Linked DNA regions of Homo sapiens: region 2 is reported to be linked to region 1. Evidence: microRNA targets listed by miRTarBase, many of them from high-throughput screens and not tested one by one. Region 1 holds a microRNA gene; the other region holds the end of a gene's coding sequence.

Evidence for each region. The annotated mature microRNA hsa-miR-4315 reads CCGCUUUCUGAGCUGGAC and lies in region 1 at 2,339-2,356, shown strand. An mRNA with a match to its seed (bases 2 to 7 or 8) in the 3' UTR can be bound and repressed. Matches are read on the target gene's strand: a 7mer-m8 pairs with bases 2 to 8, a 7mer-A1 pairs with bases 2 to 7 and ends in A, and an 8mer does both.
Region 2: the mRNA of CAPS2 is a reported target of hsa-miR-4315. The part of its 3' UTR that is shown has no 7-base or 8-base seed match.

What each region holds. Positions count from the first base shown.
Region 1 is chr17:45,474,347-45,477,763 of GRCh38, reverse strand. It overlaps MIR4315-1 (microRNA 4315-1), which reads left to right and starts at 2,329; the gene lies at 2,329-2,401. PLEKHM1 (pleckstrin homology and RUN domain containing M1) reads left to right here. Exons shown (of 12, transcript NM_014798.3): 4 at 2,038-2,664.
Region 2 is chr12:75,276,323-75,279,679 of GRCh38, reverse strand. CAPS2 (calcyphosine 2) reads left to right here. Exons shown (of 17, transcript NM_001355024.4): 17 at 615-3,357. The coding sequence ends at 790. The region is part of intron 2 of CAPS2-AS1 (CAPS2 antisense RNA 1); the gene reads right to left. Among named protein-coding and RNA genes, the nearest start is that of CAPS2-AS1, 20 kb to the right of the region's middle.

The DNA of each region.
Region 1 (3,417 bases):
TGAAAGTGTCTTCTAGAAAGGCTTATCTCTAGACCAAGCTTCCCAGCCAGTGTGCCAGCAGATCTTGAGACCCTCAGCACTCAGGCAAGAGCCTGTGGCTGCTTTGAGACTGGTCACAAAAAGCAGGTGAGACTGGCCACCTTTAGCAGGAACAGCCTTTTTTGCCACACTGGGGCAGAGTTACATAGTTACAACAGAGGTTGTGTGGCCTGCAAAGCCTGAAGAATATACTATCTGGCCCTTTACAGAAGGGCTGACCCTGCCTTGGATTTGCTGACCCTGCCTTAGATTATTCAAACATCCGAATTGTAAATCTTTTTTTTTTTTTTTGGGATGGAGTTTCGCTCTGTCACTCAGGCTGGAGTGCAATGGCGCGATCTCGGTTCACTGGCACCTCTGCTTCCCAGGTTCAAGCAATTCTCCTGCCTCAGCCTCCTGAGTAACTGGGACAACAGGCGCGCACCATCACGCCCAGCTAATTTTTGTATTTTTAGTAGAGAGGGGTTTTGCTATGTTGGTCAGGCTGCTCTCAAACTCCTGACCTTGTGATCTGCCTACCTCCGCCTCCCAAAGTGCTGGGATTATATAAAGAGTGGAATCAGGAAAAGCATATGAATATTCACCCTGAGACACTTATCTCTTTGGCCCCTAACTGTCTGGGCTTTTGAGCAAGTAGCTGGCACTGTGCCTCTGAGGACTACTAAATGCCACCTTCAGCCCAAAAGAAGCCTTGTCAGTCTCTAATCTTCCTTTCCATGCAGATTGCCACTGCCTTGTCTCACGTTCTTCTTTCCTGGGTGACACTGGCTTTCTATTTGTCCCCCTTATCTCACTCTGTCTTTCCTTGAGTCCATCATCTGGTCAACATTTACTGAGCTGAAGCTCCCTGGAGCTTACTCACTGAGCCTAGTAGAGTGCGGTCTACATTCCCATGGAGGAGATAAACCTGCGCTAGGGACTGTGGTAGCTCAGAGGGGCATGTACATCAGACGGAGGCATTCTGGGACTGAGTTTGGTACACCTGGGGTCTGATCTCCTTATGCAGAACATCTACCCTGCAGTCTGCATGACTGTGGTCAAGTCACTTTTCTAAACAAAAATCTGTAGCCTACAGGCTCCCAGATGCTAGCCTGGAGACTGATTCACTAGGTTGGGGTCCCAGAACTTGTATCCTGCTCAAGTTCCCCAGGGGGTTCTGGTGCACAGCTGGGTGTGGGGCCATTACCCCGTGTTGCCTTATTGATTTGATATTTAAGACCCTCTCTTTCCTGGCCTTGCAACCAAACCACCCACTTTTCCGCCACATGCTGTAATTGGAGCGCTCCCCAATCCTCTTACAGGGTTGTTGATTTCCTACACTTTATGCCTTTTTCCATCAGTCCCTTGTGCCTGAGGGCAGGGACCATGTCTTTACCCTGCATCTTCATTGCTCCAAGGACTTTGCACTTAAGGAGCTCTGACAGCATGCCTTAGATGAGCAGATGTGTCAGGGGCCCCGTGGTAGTTGGAATGAACATGGAAATTATCTTTCACAATTCCAATCTCAAAATATATATATATATATAATGTATAAATATATATAATTTATATTTATATATTTATTATATATAAATATAAATATATATATATATATTGCCTAGGCTGGAGTGCAGTGGTCCAATCTCCGCTCACTGTGACCTTTGCTTCCCAGGCTCAAGCTATCCTTCCACCTCAACCTCCCGAGTAGCTGGGTAGCTGGGACTACACGTGCAAGCCACCACATCTGGCTATGTTGTTGTTGTAGAGACAGAGTTTCGTCCTGTTGCCCAGGCTGGTCACGAATTCCTGAGCTCAAGTGATCCACCTGCCTTGGCCTCCCAAAGTGCTGGGATTACAGGTGTGAGCCACCACATCTGGCCTAAAACACTATTACCCAATATTTTTTCATGCCTGTATCTATTTGCAGTAGTTATTCCTGGTTCCTGCTAACCAGTGGATAAAAGCACATCTCTGTGATTTGGGGTAGTTTCTTGAAACACGTCTGTTCTCCCTTCCCAGACACATCATCTCAGAGTTGGAGCACCTGACGTTTGTCAACACGGATGTGGGCCGCTGCCGGGCATGGCTGCGGCTGGCCCTGAACGATGGCCTGATGGAGTGCTACCTGAAGCTGCTGCTGCAGGAGCAGGCCCGCTTGCATGAGTACTACCAGCCCACCGCCCTGCTCCGGGATGCTGAGGAGGGCGAGTTCCTCCTTAGCTTCCTGCAGGGCCTCACGTCCTTGTCCTTCGAACTCTCCTACAAGTCTGCCATCTTAAATGAGTGGACGCTCACCCCATTGGCCCTGTCTGGGCTTTGCCCGCTTTCTGAGCTGGACCCTCTCTCTACCTCTGGTGCAGAACTACAGCGGAAGGAATCTCTGGATTCCATTTCCCATTCTTCAGGCTCTGAAGACATCGAAGTCCATCACTCGGGCCATAAGATACGGAGGAACCAGAAGCTGACTGCCTCCTCCCTCAGCCTGGACACGGCCAGTTCATCCCAGCTGTCCTGCAGCCTAAACTCTGATAGCTGCTTACTCCAAGAGAATGGCTCCAAGAGTCCAGACCATTGCGAGGAGCCCATGTCCTGTGACTCAGACCTGGGCACAGCAAATGCTGAGGACTCAGACCGGTCTCTGCAAGAGTGAGTACGCTGCCCCCACTCCTTCCCATCTTCTCTCTTCCCTCCTTTCTTTCCTCTCCTCCTCCCTTTCTTCCCATAGCATGTGATTGTCTGTTACTGAACTCTATTAGTAATTAAAGAAAGCCAAGGGAGTCATCGACTTCTCCAGGGACTGGAGTAGCTGGGAACTGTAGCAGGCAATACAGGCATAGTGGAGAAAGTGGACTTAGAACAGCTTAGAGCTGGTTTGGGCTCCAGCTCTGCCCCGGTGACTTTTAGCAAGTTACTTGGCCGGGTGCGGTGGCTCATGCCTGAAATCCCAGCACTTGGGAGGCTGATACAGGAGGATTGCTTGAGCCCAGCAGTTCGAGGCCAGCCTGGGCAATGTAGCAAGATCCTGCCTCTAAATTAAAAATAAATAAATAAATAAAACAAAAACTGAAAACAAACAATAACAACAAAAAAACAAGATACTTAGTCTCTACAAGGCACAGTGTAAAATATTGTTGTCTTCATCTAGAAGGAAGGAAACTAATAGGTCAGAGTACATTTAAAACGTCCAACAAATAGATGAAACATAACGCATAAGAGTGTGACTTCACAGAATACCTCCTGGGGGACACAGGACCTGAGTGCTGCATGCAGGAGGTGGTGGACAGGTGGGGACAGACAGATGTGTGGAAGAGTATGTGGGGCAGATGAACTAGGCTGAAGAGAGAACTGGGCAGAGCCTTCTTCACACAGCCTTTTAAACATTTTTTTGCAGCTGGGCAC
Region 2 (3,357 bases), not on the chromosome of region 1:
TAAAAGAAAGCAAACTTCTTAATATTCAAAGTAGATTTCATTCCTTTAGTTTGAAAGACCCTTTGCAATGCATTATTGTCTAAGTCCATTAGAGAACCTCTGGTTTGAGGGAAAAAAAATTAACTCTCACCTTAATTTTGTCCACCCCATTAGACAAATGGTTTGAGTAGTATTCCCATCTAAGCCTGTTATTTAAAGCATAACCTGACTTTAAAACGTTTTAGAGGGTCACATAGAAATTTTTGACCCTTTTTCTACTATTATATATGGGCCTCTGTTTATTCTCTTTTCAGTGTTATCTGACCAGTCACTATAGCTTCCTTTCATCTTTCAATTCCTCTGTTCTTTTTAAAAATTTATGATCAAAAAAACTGTGTTCTGTGCTGGGATCCTGGAGATAGATCAGTGCAGGAGAGCAGGGGGCAGGGAAGGAGTGGCAAATCGAATGAGATGAAATAATTCCAGTTCATGTGTAAATAAATTGGCTGGTAGTTTGACAAAAGATTTCAAATTGTTGAAAGTATTTCATAAGATGATTAAGTATTCCTTTATCATCATCAGTCATTTCACTGAACTTTTCAGGAAACTGTTTCATACTCAGTACTATTTTATAGGCCATTCAACAGAGGAAGAAATCAAATCATCCTTTCTAGAAACATTAAAAGTTGCCTGCAGCAAGTCTGATGAAGTGTCATATGGTGAATTTGAAGATTACTATGAAGGTTTAAGTATAGGAATAGTAGATGATGAAGACTTTGTTAACATCTTACGTACTCCATGGGGGATTTAGTCTTTAATAATACATATGTCATCAACACTAAGCATTTTATTGGAGAGATGATATCAATGTAAAGGATGATCAAACACTGGAATATATTTTCCTAGGACTTCCTTTATTCTGGTTTCTTGTTTGTTTGTTTTGTTTTGTTTTGTTTTCTCAAAAATGTTGAATTTGGAAAGAGAACTATCCAGAAAGATAGATGTAGGGGTGTGTTAGTGTTTGTGCATGTGTATGCCTGTTCACATGTCCTTACATTTGTAAAGATATCTTTTTGGTTTATTACTTATCTTGCGTATATTTTAGAGGTCATTTTTTATTAACTTCAGTAGGAAAGTTACATCTGCATCAAACAATATGGCAACATCTATTTATTAACCAAGTTTCCTGTCCTTTCACATTGTTTTTTGCTACCTCTTCCTCAGAATATATTTGCCACCATGGTCAATTTGATAAATTAGAATTGGGCCCAAAGCCAGTGAGATAATTCAATGTGTTTTTAACACATGAAAATATTAAAGGATATGCAAGAGAAATTTTTCAAGCAGTGTGATTATAGATGTTTTCTGTATATAGAATATTTCAAATGATGGAGGTTTACCCCATGATGCTCATTTAAATACTGACTTGTCTTTTAAATCTGTCTTCTAAATTATGTACTGTTGTTGGTTAAATAGAGCACAATGTAGTTATTCTAATGCCCAGTTGTATTTGTTCTTTTATTCTGCTTTTTAACTGTAATCCTTTTTACCAGCATACGATTGTTATTGAGCAATATGAAAGGGAAATGTTCTTTATTAAAATCAATACATTATCTTATTAAACAAAGATCCTAAAAGTATATTGTTGCATATATGAATCCAAGGAATAGTTCAGTAATTATTGCCTAAAATGTGAAAGCATATTTTGTATCCTAAAATGAATGTATGATATTCTAAACATCTGTTTTAGTATAACAAACAATTGAAACATTTCCTTCTAAATATATGTTATTTAATAGTTACATGTATTATAATCATTCTTTCTAAATTCTTTGCTAGTCATTTCTTCCTGGGAATACAGAGAAAAGAGACAACTTTATGAGTTGTTTTCAACTTCATAATTTTAAATTTTCTATGTTAATATAACATAAATTAGAAAAAATAAGTGATTCAAAATGAAAATATTTACTTTGTAGAATATGACTTTAGACATATCACTGTATCCATCTATACTTGGCAGCAACATGAGAAGTGTGATACATGTGAACCCAACAAATTCAAAGTTGCACTTTTCAAGATGTGAGAAGGTACTAAAACTTAATACTAAAACATGAGAGGGAAAATATGTGTAAACCTCTAGTGCTATTTTCACTGGCTAAATTCTTTATTTCTTGATTTTTTTAAAAATTAGGTTATTAAAATTAAAACAATATGCTAGAAGACATTTTGGCAGAAATAAGTCTATAACACTATTTTTGTCACATATCTTTTTCTTGGAAAAATTTATCCAACTATAGACATCTTAAACCCTACAAATTGTTCTTGTTAAAAATGACTAATACTGGGGGTGCTCAATATGCATATAGTGTTTTTCATTGATAATTTTTATTTAGTTCTTAAGAAACCTGTTCTTAATGTTGGCATGTCACATTTTTCTGTTACTATAATCAGAAAATGTATAGTCTGTTATACTGTAAAAAAAAAAAAAAAGGGAAGCTACTTTTGGAATGTAACGTGTTAACATGACAGCATACTCTTAGTATTAATCTTAATCTTCCTAACATAAGCATTCACATGTGGTTATTTGTAGGAAATAGCTCTATTTATGAGATTTTTTTTGGTGTATTTTGTTAGAATTGGTGACACAGTAAATCATTCTGCTTTTGGATTTGCCTGACTGCCTGCATTCTTCTTTGATTTTGGTATAGTAAAATCTGTTATTTAGTGTTAAACTTAATAAAAGAGCATTTAAGAGAAGTGACATTTCAAACATCCACAACACAACTGACTTTTGAAATCCTATGCTTAATAGTCTTTGTAATTCTAAAAGACCTTTTGAAAATGTTAAAATATTAAATTATATGTTGTAATGCTGTTACATGAATTTTATAGTTATGTATATTTTATAGATCTCTATGTCTTTGTAAGTTACTTGCTTGTATGCTATATAATTGCTTTCTCAGTTAACCATACTGTTTATGGAATTGTATATACTGATTTTTCTGTTTTTATATTTTAAAAATAAAAGTTGAGAATTTTAAGGAAAAACATTTTATTAAAAAGACAAGGTATATTATATAGGAATTTTAAGCTAACTTTTAATGGAAAGGACATACATATTTGCATGATGGAGCAATCACATTATAGTTAAACATGTATGTCCCTGTTTTAAATTTTATAGTATATAAATATATGTGCTAATGAACCAGCGACTCTGCATAGAGGCAGTCACTTAGAGTAATTAATAATCTTGATACAGCTGTAGATCATATCTTATTTTACATATTACTTTTGACTTCCAGTTTAAGTTGTTTGTTATCAAGTATTTCAGGAGAGAATTGTGTACATTAGGCTATGTTTACTGCAGATTATGTAACA